Regions from separate parts of the Homo sapiens genome. Here region 2 is linked to region 1. Evidence: fine-mapped expression QTL. A gene starts in region 1. The other region holds a variant in brackets. All regions are shown on one strand. Distances are from middle to middle.

Region 1 (9,979 bases):
GCTGCCAGCCGAGGAGTTCAAGGCCAAGGTGGAGGCTGTGGTGGAGAAGCTGGGGGTCCCCTTCCAGGTATGGCTGGAAGGGAGGCTGGGAGCTATGTGGGGGCACAGAGATCCAGAGCGAGGGCTTTAGACTCCAGGGTAAGCGGGGCGGAGGCCTCAGGCAGTGTGATGCTGATAGGAACCCATCATCAGCTACAAATTCTGGGCTGGGGTGGCATCCAGTAGGTGCTTGAGGGGGAGCTAAAGCTGGTGGCCCCCTCCCATCCACAGGTGCTGGTGGCCACGCACGCAGGCTTGTACCGGAAGCCGGTGACGGGCATGTGGGACCATCTGCAGGAGCAGGTGAGTCTTGCAGCCTGCCCGGCCCCCCTCCTTTTCCTCACTCCAGCCCCTCACTCCTGGGCTCCCCGGCCTCCGGTTGGGGCCTCCTTACTCCTCTGTCCTCTCTCGCTCCCTCCTTCTGTTTTTTGCTGTGACATCTTAGATGTTGGTTTACGAGACCAGTGCTTTCAGACTTTCTACATCAGAGTAGTAGGGAAGCTGTTCATTCCTTCGTTCATTCGTTTGTGTGTGCATTTGTTCTGAAGTTTAGCGCATTCTTGAGCTGAAGGTATCAGTGAGCGGGACGGCCTGCTCCAGCAGGGCCCTCACGGCGAGGGCGGTGACTCTAGGCGGATGGGCAGACTGGCGTGTAAAACAGCAGGAGGGAGGGAGCTGGAGAAAGCAGGCATCACCCGTGGTGGGCAGGGATGGCCTCTGAGGAGGTGACATCAGAGGAAAAGGCCTAAGGCAGGGAAAGGAGGGAGCCAGGTGGACACCTGGGGAAAGCGGTCCCCCCCCTTGTGGGAGTGACAGCAAGTGCAAAGGCCCTGAGGCAGTCCCTAGCCTGGGCTAGTTAGGGACAGCGAGGCCCATGCGGCTGGCTCTAAGCGAGGGAGGGGAGAGGGCAGGGCCACAGGGAGGGCCCCGCTTTTGCCCTGAGGGAGGGGGAACCTGGGAGGCGCCGGCACGCCGGAGGCTGGAGCTGTAGCAGGGTGGGTGCCCTCCGGTGGCCGCGTGGGGAACGGGAGGAGGTGAAGTCGGGAGACCTGGAGGGAGGGGGCTGTGTGGAGAGACCACGGAGGGGGGAGGGGGCCAGGAGCACGGTGCAAAGTGGCTGGAGAGTGAGGACATGAAAGGTCGGGGGATGATTCCTGATGTGGGGCACAGACCAGGCGAAGCAGCCCCAGGGACCCGCTACCGCTGCGGGGGGACATTTGTGGGAAGGGCCTCCTCACTACCGTCTCCCGTAGGCCAACGACGGCACGCCCATATCCATCGGGGACAGCATCTTTGTGGGAGGTAAGGGCCTGGAGGCTGCTGAGGGTGGGCTGGGACGCCTCCCTCCGAGCTGGTGGGAACGGGGTGTCCCGTGTGTTCCAGACGCAGCCGGACGCCCGGCCAACTGGGCCCCGGGGCGGAAGAAGAAAGACTTCTCCTGCGCCGATCGCCTGGTGAGGCCCCTGCCCCCTGCCCCGCGCCCGAGCCCGACCCTGGCCTGTGTCTGATGTTCGTCCTCAACCCCTAGTTTGCCCTCAACCTTGGCCTGCCCTTCGCCACGCCTGAGGAGTTCTTTCTCAAGTGGCCAGCAGCCGGCTTCGAGCTCCCAGCCTTTGATCCGGTGAGGCCCTGGGGCGGGGGTGGGGGTGGGGATGGGAGGGCTCCCGGGGATGGGGACGGCATCTCACGCGTGTCCCCCGCCCCTCGCAGAGGACTGTCTCCCGCTCAGGGCCTCTCTGCCTCCCCGAGTCCAGGGCCCTCCTGAGCGCCAGCCCGGAGGTGGTTGTCGCAGTGGGATTCCCTGGGGGTAAGTGTCCTGTTCCTGTGCGCGTGCCCTGAGCCCCGCCTGGGTCCTAGGCCACCCACCGACACTGCCCCCCACACAGCCGGGAAGTCCACCTTTCTCAAGAAGCACCTCGTGTCGGCCGGATATGTCCACGTGAACAGGGTATGACCAGGCTTTTGCCGCCCCAAATCTATTATAAAGTTCCCATCTCCACCTCTCAACTGGTTTGGGGCGGCTTTCCTCCATCATTGCCTCCCCGTCCCCGCTCGGGGTCTTCTCTCCCCCTGGGTCTGCCGATCTGTTTGTGACCTCTCGTGTCCCCAGGACACGCTAGGCTCCTGGCAGCGCTGTGTGACCACGTGTGAGACAGCCCTGAAGCAAGGGAAACGGGTCGCCATCGACAACACAAACCCAGACGCCGCGAGCCGCGCCAGGTAGCGTGACCGCGGGGCCGTAGGTGGCCTGCGGCGGGGTGGGCGGGGCCTGCACATCCAGCTCCTTCCCCCACAGGTACGTCCAGTGTGCCCGAGCCGCGGGCGTCCCCTGCCGCTGCTTCCTCTTCACCGCCACTCTGGAGCAGGCGCGCCACAACAACCGGGTGAGCCCGCTCAGCCCGGACACCCCCCGGGCTGCACCCCCTGACCCCCCTCCTCCCCTGACCCCTGGGCCTGCCGCCCCTCTGATGTTCCCCACAGTTTCGAGAGATGACGGACTCCTCTCATATCCCCGTGTCAGACATGGTCATGTATGGCTACAGGTACTGTTGGGGATAGCAGGGGGCAGGGGCACTGGCTGGGCCACATGATCCAGGCTGTCCCTCACTGTTCCCACCACTGCCAGGAAGCAGTTCGAGGCCCCAACGCTGGCTGAAGGCTTCTCTGCCATCCTGGAGATCCCGTTCCGGCTATGGGTGGAGCCGAGGCTGGGGCGGCTGTACTGCCAGTTCTCCGAGGGCTGAGCCCCGCCCAGCTCCCCTCCACAATAAACGCTGTTTCTCCTTGAGCTTGGCCGGCATTTTGCTGGAAGGAGGGTGGTCCCCACGGGGGAGGGGCTCCAGGCCTGCCAGTTTCTTACATGGAGGAGGCTTTAAGGACATTTTCAGGTAACAAAAGGTGGGGCCCTACCGAGGGGAGTCCAGCTGGGACCTGGCATGAGCACTTTAGACATTAGCCGGGGAACACACAGGGAGGGCGCTGTGTGGCCCCCCGAGAGCCAGCTGGTGAGCCCACGAGCCTCAACCGAGGGGCTGGCTCAAGGCCAGGTGTGACCCCTGAGGACAAAATCCAGCTCAGGTTCTGTGACACTGAACTTGAACCCAAGGCCTGCGGGTCTGGAGATTCGGGGGGGAAGAGGGTGTGGACAGCCGAGAGCCAGACCCAGTGAGTTCCCGGGCTGTCCAGCCTGCTGGGCCACCTTAGAGCTAGGGGGCTGCAAGGCATCGGGCAGTGAGCAGAGAAGGCAGGCAGGTTTTTAAAAGGCTTTATTGGGGAAACGTAGAGGGGTGGGGACCGTCCTTGGAGGCCTCAGGACACCATCCTCCATGTTGCTGGGCAGTTGAAGTCCCCAGGGGCCCCTGCTCAGAAGCGTGTCACCTGGGGGCAGGGGTGCAGTGGGGGCTGCTGGCCACAGGCTCCCAAGCACTGACCCCACATCCCTGTGAGCAGAGGCCTGGCCCCACCCAGGCCTGGATACCACCTCCCATGGCCCTGAGGCTGGGCTGCAGTTTCCCGACAGCCTAGGACCGCTGGGACTGCTGCCTCTCCCTCTGCTCTGCTCTCCCCAAGGCCAAGGTCGCCCTGCTTCTTTCCCAACCCCACCCCCCCCACATGCCCCAGGGTCCCTCCTGTACATGACAGGGTCACCACTCACCAGTCTCTGCGGGGGCCTCATCTGTGACTCCTGGAGGGGCCCAGCCCGGGGTAACCACTACCCCCCCATCTACGGCGAGAAATCAGAGGCCAGTGGTGAGCAGGCAGCGGGGGTGGAGGGAGACTGAGCAGCCCTGGAGGCCGGCCACCTCACCCCTCGTTGCTGTTGCTCCTGCTCCAGGTTCCGCTGCAGGACCTGCTGCTGGTTGGCAATGACACGCCGGATGCCGTTGACAAAGTTGCCCTGGTCATGGGGGATGAGGCCAATGAAGATTTTCTTCTCTGAAGAGTACAGGAGCATAAGCACGCGGATCTCACACGATGCTTTGTAGGAAAAGTGCACGCAGCCGGCCTGGCAGGCACAGGGCGTGGTGTCACCAGACAGCACCACAGGGACCAGCATCCCTCCAACCACGGCATCATGCCGTGGGCTCCATGAGCCAGGCACAGCCTAACTGCTCTGTCCTCACACCCCCCACCCACCCTGGAGGTGGGCCCCCTTATTGGGATGACACGGTGGCCAAGAGCAATGGGTGGGCCAAAGGCCAACAGGCTCTGTCGGGAAGGGCCCAAGAACCTGCATTTCAGAGCTCCTGGGCAGGCCAGGCTGTGTCTGGGGCCACCTCACCACAGCCACCTGAGCCAACCGGCCATGGCTTCAACTCAGGAGCCCGAGGGATCTGCAGCGGCCGGCCCAGCACAAGCAAGGGCTGAGGTACATGGAGCCTTTCTGGGTTTCCTTGAGGAAACTTTTTTTTTTTTTTTGAGACTGAGTTTCGCTCTTGTCGCCCAGGCTGGAGTACAATGGCATGATCTCAGCTCACTGCAACCTCTGCCTCCCGGGTTCAAGCCATTCTTGTGACTCAGCCTCCTGAGTGGCCATCATGCCTGGCTAATTTTTGTATTTTTAGTAGAGACGGGGTTTCACCATGTTGGCCAGGCTGGTCTCAAACTCCTGACCTCAGGTGATCCACCCGCCTCGGCCTCCCAAAGTGCTGGGATTGCAGGCGTGAGCCACCGCACCCGGCCCCTGAGGGAATGCTTGAAATTGCTTTCATGTAAAAGCACCTACACCCAGGCCCCCCCCACCCACGAACAGCTTCGTGGACAGTTTACTCAGACTGAGTCGAAGGTAATTTTAAGGTAGTTTCGGGATATTACCCAAGTATGGCCCAGCTGGAAGGTGGACATCGGGGGGAGGGCTCAGAAACACCAAAGTCCAACCTTCTCCACCTCACAGATGGAGAAACTGAGCCCGAGAGAGAGAAGAGGAGTCAGCTGAGCCTCCCCCAGATAAGACAATCGCCAAATATTCTGGGACCTTGCTGGGGGCAGACAGCCCTCCCTGCCCAGCAATGGGCCTTTGGGATGTGGCACAAGCTCCCGGGAAACCAGGAGTGACAAGGGCGCCTGTCCCTGAGGAGTGGAGAGCGCGGAGTTGGTGCTGAGTCAGCCCTGATGTGGCAGAGGAGGAGCAGGCCCCCGCAGAACCAGGGTCAGTGCCCCATCCAGTGCCGTGGGGACAGCACAGAGCCCCCAGAAGTCACGCCCACACTAGCCACCCTCTCTCCCCAGCTGGTCTGGGACATGGTGCTCTGTTCCTCTCCCATGTCCGCCCCCGTGAGCGGTCCGGGCTCGCTCTGCCCTGGCCGGCCCCTCCCCTGCGTCTGCTGGCACCACTCACGAAGCCATTGTCCATGATCCGGCACAGGCTCTTCAGTGTCTCCAGGTCCTTGGTGAAGTGGAACTGGACCAGGCGCGAGTTCCGGAACAGCGGCACTAGGGTGGTCTGCGGGGAAGCGAGGGGACCCCCAGCTCTGGCTTCTCCCACCACGGCCTCCCGGCTCCCAGCCCGCTGAGTCCCCCGGGCCCAGGACCAAACTGAGACTCCCCTGTCCTCCCTACCTCAGGAAACGTCATCTCCACCGCTCAACCAGCCCAACCCTGGAGTGCTGTGGAAGCCGCTCTCAGATCCCTTGGCAGCCCCCCAGGTGCAGGTCGTGGCTGCCCCTGCCCCGCTCAGTCCCTGCACAGCCACCAGCTGGCTGCCTGGGACCCCTTGAAGCCAAGCCTGAGGAGCTACCCACCACACCTGCTTCAGCACCCTCAGCTCCGCTCCCTCACAGCCAGCTCAGGCCACCTGGGGAGGCGCTCTTGCCCCCAGCCCCGCCCTCTGGAAGAGCTACTGCGTGCAGGCTCCAGCACCCGGCCCCAGCCCCTCACCAGCAGCTGCTGCGGGATGAGCTGCATGTACAGCTTCCTTGGCCACTGCTCGGTCCTCCTGTGGGGCACAAAGGGACGAGGGTCAGGAAGCCCCAGCTCCCCTGGATGCTGCCTCCACCCCCCAGCCCAGCACTCACAGGATCTCCCCCTGGTTCACGTAGACGTGGGATGGCAGCCACCTCTTGGACCGACTGTTGGGCTCAGGCCTGGGCTTTTGGGGGAGAGGCAAAGAGGAGCCCTCAGGGCTGGAGACCCCCAATGCCAGTGTCCCCTCCCAGCCACAGTCCGTGAGGATCTGGGGGTCCCAAGTCCCTGGGCTGCCGAGTGCTCACCTCCTGCCACTCCATGACACCACTCCATGCCAGAAACTTGTTGTTGACGATCTGGACTGGGCCTGAGTTGACACCACCAGGTCCCACTGCCTGTTGGAAGGGAACGGGGTGGGAAGAGGGGCCCAGGCTCCTGGGAAACCTGTCTGTCTGTCCTGGGGCCTGCCATCCCTCCCTCCGAGCCTTGGCCTGTTAGCCCCAGCTGGGTCCATTCTCTAGTCCCAGGGGAACAGGCCCTGCCCCTCATCTGCTCACAGCCCCCCATGGCTCCCCAGTGGCCTGAGACAGGTCCCGGCCCTCACCTGGTGCACAGGACCTGCAGAGTCTGCCTCAACTGGCAAGGCATGACCAGGACACGTGGTTACCAGGCAGGGCCTTCCAGCCGCAGGACGATCCCAACCCCTGCCCAGCTCCCCGCTCCGCTGGCTTCCCTGCCGCCGCGCCAAGACCCACCCTCCAGCCCTGCAGAGCCGCCCAGTGGCCGCTTTTCCATGGAGCCCTGGTGGGAACCCGCCCGGCATCCTCCGGGCTCCCCTGCAGCTCCTTGCTCCAGCCATCGCATCACACTCCGCCCACACCAAGTCTGGCTGCCCAACCAGGGCAGTGGGGTCTAATCCCCCTCTGTCCCCAGAGGGGCTGTGCTTGGCTGGCACACCTGCTTGCGGGTGGTGATGACCTGCCGGATGGCACTGACGAAGCCGCTCTGGTCGTAGGGGATGAGGCCCATGAAGATCTTCTTCTTGGACGAGTACAGGAGCATGAGCACGCGCACCTCACAGGGGGAGATGTGGGGGAACAGCATGCAGCCCGCCTGCGGGGGCCGCGGGTCAGGACCCTGTGGTCACTGCCCGGGGCCACTGTGCCCCCACCACCCTGGACCGCCCCACCTGTAGGGGATGAAGGGAGATCATCGGTGGACAGAGGCCCCCACAGTCAAGGCCATGGCCATAGGTGAGGGGCCTCTGAGAGCCCGTGCAGCGCCCATCGGCATCCCCCGACCCTGCCATGGCTGAGGTCAGAGTGGCACCCGGCACCCAGGCTGCGGTGAGAATGCCAAGAAGGCACTACCTCCCACCCACATCACCCCCTGCCGCCAGCCCTCCTGACTGCCTGATGGGGTGACTTGGCCTGGGGGTTAAGAGCACAGGCAGCGCCCCACCGTTCTGCTGCCTCCTAGCTGTGTGACCTAACACCAGCCACCTCCTGCTTCTGGGCCTCCATCATCTGTAAAACCGGGTAATAGTGCACACAGTTGGTGCCACATAAAGGCTCAACAGATAAAGTGCTGGTGCCTCTTGAGGATGGCGCATGGGAGAACTAAGCCTGACAGATGTGCCTGGCTGTGGTGTCTAGATGAAGTGGTGTGACCGTCCCAAAACCCCATGTCCCCTCCCCACACCGGGCCACCCCCACAGTGCTGTCCCCTCCACGCTGCCGGCCTAACTTCTCAACCTTGGTGTCCAGCCCAGGGATCACCCGCTCAGGGCCCTGTCCCTGGCCTCCCTGGAGCCATGCACAGTCAGCCTCCCAGGGCCATGCCTGGGGGGTGAGTATGGATGTCCACTTTCCCTACAGACTGGGTACTCGGGGCCCAGATATGGCAGGCCCTCAACAAACGGTGCTGGGTGAAGGGGGAACGGGTCACTTAAGAGACCTCATGCCAGGCACAAGCCCTGGTCTGCCCCTGGTCTCCTGAGGGAGAAGGGAGGCCCTAGCGGAACCCAGGGCGCTCAACGGCAGCTGGGACGGGTAGAGGCAGACTGTCCCAACAGGGAACAGGGACTGGGAATGTCCCAGAGCCAGGTCCTCTGGGCAGACAACTCGCTCCCACCCCACCCCTGCCTCCTCTCCAGCACCTGCCATCTTTCACAGCCCAAGCCCCCTTTCTGACCTGCCCTGCGCCAGAATCTCAGTCACCTGAACAGCCTCACCAGCTGGGTTCACCCAGCACTCACTAGGTACTAAAGTCACCATCTCAAGCGCTTTACACAAATTCCCTCCCTCCAGCCTCCCGGTGGCCCTAGGAAGCACGGCTCCCCTGTCCTCCCTACCTCAGAAAATGTCATCTCTACCCCTCAACCAGCCCAACCCTGGAGTGCTGCGGAAGCCGCTCTCAGATCCCTTGGCAGCCCCCCGGGTCCAGGTCATGGCCGCGCCTGCCCCACTCAGTCCCTGCACAGCCACTGGCTGGATACCTGGGTCCCCTTGGAGCCAGGCCTGAGGACCTACTCACCGCGCCTGCTTCAGCACCCTCAGCTCTGCTCCCTCACGGCCAGCTCAGGCCACTCGGGGAGGTTAGCCCATTTTACAGACCAGAATACCAAGCCCCAACGTGCCACTCCCTCCTGGCTGGCTCTTGTGCCTAGCACACCCATTTACCAGGTCCCTGCCATACGCTATGTGTCCCCGACAGGCTCCTGGGCCCCAACAGGGCTGGCCCCAGTCCCTCCCTGCACTCACGCCCCCAGGGCCACCTCGAAGCTGGGCACAGATGCAGAAACTGGAGGCCTCTCAGGCTGAGTTCCTTCACCCTGTGCTCTACGGAGGGTGCCTGGAGTCAGTCATTTCCAGATGGGGTCCGAGAGGCCACGAGGGCTACCCTCGGCCCCAGGGGAGACCCCCCGACCCCCGCCTGGACTGTGTGAGCAGAGCGCTGCCTCCAGCTGTACTTGTCACCACAGTGCTACAAGGGAGCCCGCCCCACTCACGAAGCCGTTGCCCATGATGCGGCAGAGCCCCTTGAGCGAGTCGCAGTCTCTGTTGGTGAAGTGGAACTGTGCCAACTGGGAGTTCCGGAACAGGGGGCCCAGGGTGGTCTGGGGGCGACAGGACAGACAGCTGGGTCAGCCAGGCATGGGGGTGCTCAGAGTGGATGGGGTGGGAGGGGCGGGTCTCACCAGCAGCTGCTGAGGGATCAGCTGCATGATCAGCTTCTGCGGCCACTGGTCGGTCTCCCTATGGGAAGGAGCTGGTCAGAAAGGGCTGCCCTGATCCCCACGGCCACAGCCACTGCCCCTGCCACCGCCCTGGCTGCCACGCCCCGGCACTCACAGGTTCTCGCCTTGGTTCACGTAGGCTTGGCAGGGCAGGGTCCGCTTCAGCTTTGCAGTGGAGTCAGAGTAGGGTCTGCGCTTCTGTGGGGGCAGGAGGGGCGTCACTGTGCACAGCCTAGATGCCCTGGCCTGTCCCCGCAGGGACAAGACAAGACCCTGGAGGCCAGCCGCAGCCCCACAGAGACTCACCTCCTGCCACTCGAGGACGCCGCTCCAAGCCAGCAGCTTGTTGCTGAGCCGGTGCTCGCTCACGGCCAGACCCCCGAGGGTGAGCCCAGGTGAGGAGGGACCGATGGGACCCAGTGCCCCGAAGACCCGAGCACCTTCCTGCAATGGAGTGGGGGATAGGTGGGAAAACTGAGGCCGGGGCCTGCAAGGACAGGCAGTCCCCACACACCCCAGAGGGGACGTCCCAATATTCAGCCCCAAATCCCCTGCTGGAAGCCCACGGGGCCATGTCCAAACCCTCTGCTCACCCCTCAGGACCCCCACACGCTGGTCCTCATGTCCTTTCCCGCTGCCCACCCTCAGGACCCTTCCTTCCCAGAGCCTGCTGTCACCTTGACACTGGCCCAGCAGAGTCCTGAAGCCTTCAGCCAGCCCCACCTCCAGCCTTTGCCCCAGCTGTGCGCCTGATCGATTCTTGAGACCCAAGTTAGAAGCCAGCTGTAGGGGGCTTTC
Region 2 (9,979 bases), 23 kb after region 1:
CTCCAAGTTCGCCACAGTCCCCATCATTCCCTGTTGTCTTACACCCGTCCGCTTCACACATTTTCATCACCTGCCTGGTCCCTGAAGCCATCTGAGTTTTCAAAAACCCCTGCTACACAGGCTGCCTGGGAAATCACCCACTTGCACTTCTTCGCTGTCACCAGTGCCTCCTGCTCCACACTCACATTCCTGAGGATCGCCTAGAGAGCTTGCTCACACGACTCCCAGACCCCCGCCCTCCCCCCACTGGATCCAACAGTTCCAGGGCAGGGATCGGAAACTCACATGCCTACAGGGGCCAGGCGGGTCACATAAATGAGTGAACTAGCCAGGTATAAGAAAAGTCGACGGCCAGAAATATCATCAAATCGGATCTTTACTCAACTATGGTGAATGCATGGAACATAATACAAACATGGATGTTACTGGAGTTTATATTTTTAAATTCAAAATTGAAAAAATACAAATTGAAAAATAGAAATATTTAATTATTAAAATTTTCTCTTTCATAATTCTTTTTGCGCCTTTGAGTTGAAGCCAAAAGGCTGGCGTCTTCCCTTCCACACCGAGATGTCAGTGTCAGGCCTCGGGTGGCACGGTGGGGACGGGCAGTTTAGAATTCAGCCTTGAATCCTTCAACTGGGAACGATGTTTAATTTGATTCAGGTTCGTAACGGAAAACAGCTGTTCACAAGCGTGGGTACTCCCAAACACAGATATTCAGGACAACTACTGGAGATAGTTGTAGAATCTCACCATCTTCACACAGACTTGTATTTAGGAACCAGCGCCGTATTGCACTGTAGTTCAATTACTATTTATGGTCTGCATTCACACAAGAAACATCTGCCAACAAAGGCAAACTGGACAATGTCTGTTCCTTCTCATGAGTCTGGATTCCGAGAGCCTTTGGGGGAATTTGGTCTTCAACCCCAGGACGTAGGTGAATACAGTCCGGGCCACCTCTTTCATTTCTGAAAGCCGACTGCAGCACAGGAAAGAGTAAAGGTTTTTTTTCCTTGCCGGTGGATTCCCCAGGACCAAGCATACACCATCATACATTCAAGTAGCTGTTTGTGGACATCCTTGCGGAGAAATATTCAGTGTTCAGAACGGTCATAACCTTGACCAGAAGTCTTTGACTAACCTTCTCAGGGGAACCCACTGTGGCTTTTGCCTGATTTAAAATGAACCAAGTTGGTTAACTTGAACAGTTCAGATTTCTTCCACAACCAAGTCACAGAGCTTCTGTGAAATCTCTCAGGTCAAGTCACCATCAACTCACTCGTGACTGAAGTCCAGGAGCGGAAGTGTCGAGAGCATCGCGGTGTGTTCTGTTCAGTTGCTCAGAACAAGTCAACTCCTGATGATGGATGCAACGACCCAACTTCCGTGTCCTTGCCAAATGCTGTCGCCTTGGATCAAGGTGTCCTGCCAAGTCCCCCTGTCATGACGCTGTCTGTAGTTGTGCTTCGGAACTCTGGCCAGTCTATGTGAAACTTTTCTCTCAATATACAAAAAAAATTAGTCCTTTCCCAGTGTTGGGCCTGCCTTGGCACCATGCCACAGACTTCTTCGGTCACATCAAGATTCTTAACACCACAAATAAATAAAGCTAACTGGGTGGTAATAGTTTATGAGCAGCGAAAGAAAAGGCCACAATCAATTTGACTCTTTCAAGCAACTGGACTTGTAAATCCCCCGAGTTATCTCCAACTCACTGTGCAACGCAAATGCCCGTTAGACTTAAATAACGGTCTCAACAGTCATGTGTTTCTGTGCAGGACACGTCACTCTGCTCCTTTATAAACTTGCCATCTGCTGTAGCTCTGAATGCCCAGGTCATTCTTCTCACGTGATTCCGGAACGGCGTACCACTGCCGCGCCACTTCTGTTAATTCGCTTTTCAAAACAAACCCTATTGACATTTGAGTCCCTTTTTCAGTTCGTTGAGGATGGCATCTCGAGTCTGTTCTGTGTACTGGTCGTAGCTCTTACTATGCTTTGATTCATAGTGGCGTTTCAGGTTGTATTCTTTCAACACAGACACGATTTGTTTGCATATTAAACACATAGGCATGCTCTTCACTTCCACAAAGAAATAGGCTCGCTCCCATTTTTCTCGAAACACACGGCCCTCTCCTTCTCTCTTTCGTTTTGCCGCTTGTGATAGAGACATGGGTACAAGAAAGATTTCACTTTCCTCTGAATGCTACCACAGAACAACCACAGTGCAAACCCCGTGACAAAGGCAGTGACTCTCTGCCTCACAGGGAAGCCAAGAGGGAGTGGTGGGGACTGTGGCGAACCAGAAAGCACACGCCCCATGGAGAGGGGCAGCTCCAGCCCATTGTTGCCAGGCAGAAGGGCGGGCCCAGGGGTGCCAATTCTTCTGACTTGTCAAAAGAAGCCAAGACTGCAGATTTTGTGTGTGTGCGTGTGTGTGTGTGAATTAACCTGATTTTTACAACTAACTCGTAAGAAAAAAATGCCACATATGCTAACACAGGGAAGGCCAAACAAAACTCATCCGCACGATGGCCCATAGGCCACCAGATTGCAATCTCTCTCCTGGGGTGGGGCCCGTGAATCTGTACGTTAACCAGCATGCAAAATGATGTGGATGCTGGTGGTCCAGGCATGGACCGCGCTCTCAGCAACACTGGTCCAGAGTCCAACAACAGACAACTCACTCACCACCTCCAGGAGAGACCACCCTGCGCTCCAAGCCTGTCTGGATCCCCCTGCCCTCGGGACGTCTCTGAGGACATCCTTCAGGTCCCTCACCTTGCCACGTCCCAAACCTGTTCCCTGCTGGGTATTCTATCCTGGGGACAGACCCACCGTCTTCCCCATCCACAGCCCTGGAAGGTCAGTCTCTGACATGGACCCAGGGACTGCCCTCTCTCCATGTGCGATCTTGTCTGCTTCTGTGGCTTGAACTGCCAAACATACACTGTCCCCTAAGGACACGTCCTGAGCTCCCAACATGGCACCTGTCACCTGGATGTCCCTTGGACCACCTGCACTTACTACCAGCTCCTTCTCCCAGGAGCCCCACCACCTACCATCACGTAGGCCTGGCCCCCGGGAGCGAACCTCTACCCCAGCCCCCGACACCGCCACCACCCAGCCTCACCTTTCCTGGCCTCCTGTCTGGCCTCATCACGCTCTACAGCTGAGAGGGGTCTTTCTGACATCCAGAGCTGGCCTAGGCCCGCCCCACTGCTCAAAGCCTCCTGGTTCTCCTGTGTCCCCAGGACAAACCATGGGCTGCTCAGTTTGGAATCCGAGCTCCTCAAACTCTGCACCTGCCCATCTCTCTAGCTCCCTACATGCTCATGCTCCAAAAGCATCCATCAACTTGCTCCTCTCAATGTCTCAGGCTTCCTCCTGCCTTTGAGTATTCAAAGTTTCTGTTGTCCTCTGCACCCAGATCACCCCTCACCTCCTTCCCTCCCAGCCTGACGGCTGATTCTCTTTCAAGACTCTGAGGAGCTGGGGCTGGGTCAGATGCCTCTTCCAGGCTCCCATGGTGCCCCTGCCACCTCCATGAGAGCTTGAGTCCTGAGCGCTGCCTGCCTGTCCCTGCATCTCCCACGAATCAGGTTGCACCAGACTGCCTGTGACTCACCACGGAGGCCCCAGCGTCATTCACCCAGGGCCCCAGGGATGTCTGCTGAAGTGAGAACAAGGACAGAGATGCCCCCTGGGGTTTCCTCCTGCCCAGTCCTGAGGGATGTCAGTGACGGGAGCCGGGGCGTGTGTTAAAAAGGAACTTTATTGGGTGTTGGGGATTCAGATGAGATCCATGAGGATGTCGTCCTCCATGACGCTGGGCTGCAGGCCCGGCTGGGGGACCGGGCCCCGGGGACCCCCGCTCAGCAGCATCTGACCTGAGGGGCAGTGGGGAAGGGACTGCATCTCCCAGTAGGCCCTTGGGCCCAGGAGGGCCCAGAGGCACTAAGTTTTCTAGGCAGCCCTTGGGGGACCCAACAGAAGCACCTTCTGGCCCCATCTAGTTACAAATATGCTGTTTCCCATGAGCCTTTGGGGGCCCTTCTCCAAAACTACTTCTCTGGCCCTAAGACCACATTTCCCAGCAATCCCAGGAGCACACACAGGAGGATCATGGGAAACGCTCTTAACCCACTAGGTCCTTGGACCCATGGGCTGTACTTTCCCGGAGCCCTCAGAGCTCCGCAAAGGCCATGGGGGAACCCTCATTCTTGGATCCTATGTCTTTACTTCCCAGGAGCACTCGGTCTTGGTGCTCTAGCCCAGGAGCTGCTGGGACACTCAGTCCAGACCTCTGCCCTCCCCCGGGTCCCCTTACCTGGCAGTGGAGCCCGAGGGGGAAGTTGTGCGGGCCAGGACTGGGCAGGTGGTGGATGCAGGAGTGGGGGCCCCAACTGGGGCTGCCCCAGGCCCTGGTGCGGCGGAGGCAGCAGCGCAGGAGCCCCTGGTGGCTGGAGGTGGTGGAGGGAGGCCTGGGGTGGGGGCACCCCAGTCTGCGGCTGGGAGAACACAGAGAGTGGCTCAGAGGCTCCTGGTAGAGACTCCCCACCTCTCAACACAGACACTGCTCAGAGATGGAATCAGCTAGTGGTGAGGGGAAGTTTTTCTTCAAAGGTGGGGGATGGACGGAGAGGAGGCGGTCTGCCTTCTGCCTAAAGCCCTGGGCGGGTCCCCATTCACACCCACTGACCACAGTCAACCTCCCTCCTCCCAGACAACAGGACCAGAACCACCAGGGCCAGGATCTGGAACTCTCGCTACCCCACCCCAACATCTCACCGGTGGTGGGTTGAGGAGGAGGCTTCGCAGCTGAGGGTTGGCCCCAGGGTTCTGGGGCCGAAGGATGGGTCCAGGAGGGGGTGGGCCAGAAGCTGCTCCAGGAGGGCCTTGAGGGGCACCTGGCGGGGGCTGGGCAGTACCTTGGGGCTGGGGCTGCCCCGTGGCCCCAGAGGCCCCTACGGTACCCTGAGGCTGGGGCTGCGGTGGGCGGAGCTGGAGCTGGTGGGAAGAGACACAGGGGTGAGGGAGATGGGCAGGGCCTCACGCCCCTTCTGCAGGCACAGAGCGCAGCCTTGGGGCCTCCCCAACCCAGCCCCGACCCCGCCAGCCCTGTCCTCACCAGATTCTGTGAGGGCCTGGCTTGGTCCTCCAGAATGGGCCCCAGCCCTGGGGGTGCCTGCTGTCCCCCCATCTGCACGGGGAGAGAGGGGCAGGTCAGTAACTGAGGGTGGTGGCATCCTGAATCTGAGGCGGGAGGGCCTGTGCCCTGAGGGGAACTAGTAAGGAGATGGGGACATTCTCTTTGGGGGTGAGTGGTCTGGGAGGGATGCCGTACACTCCAAGGTCTCCAGGAGGAAGCTGTGTCAGGGCTTTGATGTGGATGCTGAAAAAGGAGAGAGACTGCAAGAAAATCTGAGTGGGACTTAGCTTGGAGGCACCACATATTGGGAGAAGGGTGGGCATCTTGGTCCTGGAGACCCCAGGGGGCCATGTGGGGCCCGGGCAGGAGGGGGTCGGAGTGCTGGTTTGGGGACTGTCAACACTCACTCCTCGCTGCTGCTGCTCCAGCTTCTGCTGCTGGACCTGCTTGTGGTTGGTGATGACCTGCCGGATGCCGTTGACGAAGCCGCTCTGGTCGTAGGGGATGAGGCCCATGAAGATCTTCTTCTTGGACGAGTACAGGAGCATGAGCACGCGCACCTCACAGGGCGCCGTGTGGGGGAAGTGCACGCAGCCCGCCTGGGTGGACAACAGCTCTTCAGAACCATTCAGGCCCTGAAAGAGGCAGCCCTGACCCCCTCCCCATTCCAGAAGGCTCTAGAGGCCCCACAGGCAAGGTGAGGTGAGGTTTCTGCTATAGAAGGTTAAGGAGAACAGGTGTGCTATGGGTTGCTCTGGAGACAGAAACTGAGGCGCTCAGGGCAAGCTAGGGTTCCAGCTGCCCACTGAGAGGGAAAGC[G/A]GAGAGAAAGTGCTGGAGCCCAGCTCTTCAACCTTCAGCCACCACCTGCTCCTCATGGACCCAGTTTCTTGGGCATAAAATGCCACGGCGGCCTCCTCAGAGGGCGGCTGAGGGTCACGGCCGGGAGAGCGGCCTAGATGCACAGCGTGGTACCCACAGGCCTGTGATCAACGGTGGGTCGGACCCCGGGTATCCAAGAGATCCTCCAGCCCTCAGCACCGGCCAGTGTACACCACGGGGAGTGCTCCCACATCACAGGGTCGCTGTGACTATGCGATGTCTGATCCACAGCAAGAGCCCTGCCTGAGGCTCAGCCCACAGGAAGCACCCAGGAAACATCACTGGTCATCAGGGGGGTAACACATGGAGCATTCAGGGCAGGGGCTCCTGAGGGAGGCGAGGCTGACCTTGGCCAAGTGAATTGACTTCTCTGAGCCTCGGTTTCCTGCCTGAGACAGACCCTGCTAGCTGCCTATTCCATATCCAAGTGTCCTCCTCCCCTGCATTCCCAATGCTGTCTGGGGCTGTAACATGTCCCAGCCCCAGACAGTCACGGATACCTGCTCCCAGCAGCCTCCCATCAACTAGGGGCTGCCCAGTGGCCTAGGTCCGGGATAGGAGGTGAAAGGAATGCCTGCTCTGGAATCTGAGAAAGTTTCTGCTGTCTTGAAGAAAGGGAAACACACAGCCCCCTTCCCCTCCTTCATGAAAGCACACAGGATGCGTGGAGCCATGAGAGCTACCTTGTGACTATAAAGGAGAGGCCAAGAGAACCACAGGGCCCTGTCCCTGATGTCACAGACCTATGAAACCAATCCCAATAGCTGGCCCCCTCTAGATGTCCTGTCCTGTGCAAAATATAAATGCCTGCTCCTACAACGCCTGCCCTCTCAGAACCCAGCTGCCACAGTGTGGCCACGTGGACAGGCCATGTGCAGACACTGGGATGGCCGGTCCTAGCCAAGCCCCAGCCAACAGCCAGGGCTGTGTGAGGAGCTGTTTTGAACATCCAGCCCAGTAAAGGTTTCAGATGACCAGAGTCTCAGCTGCCATCTGATGGCAACCCCGTGAGAGTCGCCAAGCGAGATGGCCCACTGAGCCCAGGTGACCCACAGAATCATAAGAGAACATTTTTTCCGAGTGCCCCCAATTATCTATGTGTTTGGGAAACTACGTGATTTGCAGCCGGAAGTACTAACTCTCAGGAATGCCTTCTTCACAAGGTTCTGTGAGGGTCTCGTGAGGTGATCCCCCTAAGGTTCTCTTTCCTGCAGGAGTGCCTGGTGCACGGAAGTAACTGATCTGCTCCTTCCCCGAGTTACAAAGTGTGAACTGTGACTCCCAGAAAGCTATGCTGAGGCTGGGCGCGGTGGCTCACACCGGTAATCCTAGCACTTTGGGAGGCCGAGGCAGGCAGATCACTTGAGGTCAGAAGTTCGAGACCAACCTGGCCAACATGGTGAAACCCTGTCTCTACTAAAAAATACAGAAATTAGCTGGGCATAGTGGCACATGCCTGTAATCCCAGCTACTTGGGAGGCTGAGGCAGGAGAATCGCTTGAACCCAGGAGACGGAAGTTGCTGTGAGCCAAGATTGCACCACTGCACTCCAGCCTGGCTGACAACAGTGAAACTCTGTCTCAAAAAACAAAACCAGAAAGCTAAGCTGAGGTTCCAGTCCCCAGCACCTGTGAAGGTGACTCTATCTGGAAAGAGGGTCTTTGCAATTGTAGTAAGATGAGGTCAGGAAAATGGGGCCTAATCCAAAATTACTGATGTCCTTATAAGCACAGACACAAAGATACAGAGAGAATGCCATGTGGAGACACACACAGAGGGAAGACAGCTGCGGGATGGAGGAAGACCCTGGAGCGATGCCACCTGAAGCCTGGGGTTACCGGCCGGAAGAGGCAACGAAGAGGCCTTCCCTCCAGCCTCTAGAGAGAGCGTGGCCCTGCTGACACCCTGACCTTGGGCTTCTGGCCTCCAGAACTGGGATAGAACACGTTTCTGTTGTTTTAAGCCCCTCTGCTTGTGGTAATGTGTTACCACAGCCACAGGAAATGAACACATCCCATAAAGCCATGCCAGAATCAACAGCTTCCTCCTAACTGATCCTGTCACATCCAGCTCACATTTTTAATGTGGAATATCCCTCAAATCTGGTGCATACGATGATTATAATAAAAGTCACGGCTCTAGAAGAAAGGCGAGGAACCTAAGGGCATGAAGTGCACCCAACCATCAAAAACGGCTTCCGTGGGCCCAGGCACTCTGGGATTCCCGTCAAAGGTCAGCAGAAAGCAGGACAAGAGTCAACACCCCTCGGCCCCCCATGCCCTGGACTCACGAAGCCGTTGCCCATGATGCGGTAGAGGCCTTTGAGAGACTCCAGGTCCTTGTTGGTGAAATGGAACTGGACCATCCTTGAGTTCCGGAACAAAGGGCCCAGGGTGGTCTGCGGGAGACACAGAAGTCGGCTGGCATGCTGGTGTGGGCAAGTGAGGCGGGGACATGAGGCAGGGAGTGGGGGTGGGGCAGGGAACAGGAAAGAGACAGCAGGGTGAGGACTGCCCGGCAGCAGGGCTGGCCCTCCACCGCCACTCACCAGCAGCTGCTGGGGGATGAGCTGCATGATCAGCTTCTGGGGCCACTGCTCCGTCTTCCTGGGGGCGATGCCAGGAGAGGTGTGAGGAGGGGGCCAGCCCCAGCCCCACCACACCCCGCCCCTGACTGTCACCTACAGGTTCTCGCCATGATTCACGTAGACCTGGCAGGGCAGTGACCGCGTCAGCTTGGTGTTGGCATCCACTGAGGCAGGTTTGGGTTTCTGAGGGGGAAAAAAGAGCATGTCAGTAAAAAGGGCCATAAGCCTCAGTCCCCTTGAGCCCTCATGTCCTACCCTGGTAGCCCCAAAGCTCAGGATGTTCCCCAGTTTAAGTCCCATGAGCCCCAGGCCCCTCCTCCAGACCAGCAAGCCTTCAGTTCCTCAAATGTTACAGCTACGTGCCCGGCCCCTAAATCCCACCATCCACTGTGCCCCAGATGATACATCGCCTGGGCTCTTCTCTGGGCCCCAAATCCTGGGCTTTTCTGGGTTCTTTGCATGGGGACTCTCCTCTGTACCGCAAGTCCCACCACTCCATGGGGCTCCTGGCCTCGCCCCGCATCCCACAGGTCCAGCGCAACGAATGCCTCCAAACCCAGCACTGCAGACCCCACGCATCTGGCCCCATGAGTCCTACATGCCCAGCCCCACGGCCCCAGGAGTCCCAAGTGCCCAATGGACCCTCAGGCCCCTCACCTCTTGCCACTCCAGGACCCCGCTCCAGGCCAGAAGCTTATTGGAGACTGACTGCTGCCCACCGAGGGCTGGGGCTCCCAGCTGGGCTGGGGAAGGGCCGCTCACCCCTCCTGGGGCCACAGTGCCTGCCTGCCAGAGGGGAGGAAGGAGGGCCATGAGAATGGGGAAGGCCGGGAGCCTCCGGGGGCCATCCTGTGAGGGCAAACCAGGAAGGAGGAAAGATCCCTTCTTCTGCCCCTCCATCCCCAGAACAGCACTTGGCCAGCCGCAGGACCCCAAATGCTTGGACCTTGCAGGATTCGAGGACTCGTAAGCTGTGCGATGCCCTGGACTCCCAGACCCAGGGATTCCTTGGGTTTCTCGGAACAGCCCTGACCCTCCTGGAGCCATGAGCCTCCCCACTCTGTCCCCAGACCCTCATCTCAGGCATCTGCAGCACACACACCACGAGCCCCCAAAGCCCCAGAACCACGAGAGCCACATCCCCCTGGAAGGCAAATGACTCATCCTCTAACTGTCCTAGCTGTGGACAGCAGGAGGAAGGAGCAGGGGCAGGAGGCGTGCAGGCACCTACCATGGACGGTGCCCCGGGCTGTGCCGTGGGAGCCAGGCCGGAGCCAGGGGCCACAGTGGAGACCAGACTGGGCTGGGAAGCAGGTGGTGGCTTGGGGGCGCCAGGGGGTCCTGGGGGTAGTTGG

Evidence for each region.
Region 2: its variant is fine-mapped to the expression of PTOV1-AS2 in whole blood (TOPMed, PIP above 0.99).

The regions. Positions count from the first base shown.
Region 1 is chr19:49,854,052-49,864,030 of GRCh38, reverse strand. It overlaps PTOV1-AS2 (PTOV1 antisense RNA 2), which reads left to right and starts at 4,742. Exons shown (of 5, transcript NR_110730.1): 1 at 4,742-4,825; 2 at 4,934-5,188; 3 at 5,405-5,477; 4 at 5,604-5,684; 5 at 6,959-7,566. It overlaps PTOV1 (PTOV1 extended AT-hook containing adaptor protein), which reads right to left. Exons shown (of 12, transcript NM_001394010.1): 2 at 9,488-9,625; 3 at 9,297-9,379; 4 at 9,143-9,200; 5 at 8,954-9,061; 6 at 6,901-7,056; 7 at 6,249-6,338; 8 at 6,054-6,127; 9 at 5,917-5,974; 10 at 5,378-5,482; 11 at 3,848-4,045; 12 at 3,289-3,763. The coding sequence ends at 3,752. It overlaps PNKP (polynucleotide kinase 3'-phosphatase), which reads left to right. Exons shown (of 17, transcript NM_007254.4): 7 at 1-67; 8 at 271-342; 9 at 1,293-1,341; 10 at 1,423-1,493; 11 at 1,568-1,660; 12 at 1,750-1,846; 13 at 1,926-1,987; 14 at 2,150-2,259; 15 at 2,336-2,423; 16 at 2,521-2,582; 17 at 2,666-2,827. The coding sequence ends at 2,783. MIR4749 (microRNA 4749) reads right to left here and starts at 9,440; the gene lies at 9,380-9,440. RefSeq lists enhancers at 7,709-7,758, 7,789-7,848.
Region 2 is chr19:49,830,764-49,840,742 of GRCh38, reverse strand. MED25 (mediator complex subunit 25) reads right to left here. Exons shown (of 18, transcript NM_030973.4): 9 at 9,856-9,979; 10 at 9,282-9,410; 11 at 8,722-8,807; 12 at 8,586-8,643; 13 at 8,328-8,435; 14 at 5,566-5,757; 15 at 5,138-5,209; 16 at 4,798-5,016; 17 at 4,337-4,517; 18 at 3,764-3,896. The coding sequence ends at 3,799. MIR6800 (microRNA 6800) reads right to left here and starts at 8,725; the gene lies at 8,644-8,725. PTOV1-AS1 (PTOV1 antisense RNA 1) reads left to right here. Exons shown (of 4, transcript NR_040037.1): 4 at 667-2,098. RefSeq lists enhancers at 5,183-5,683, 5,684-6,184. The variant G/A (reference allele first, on the strand shown) is at 5,978.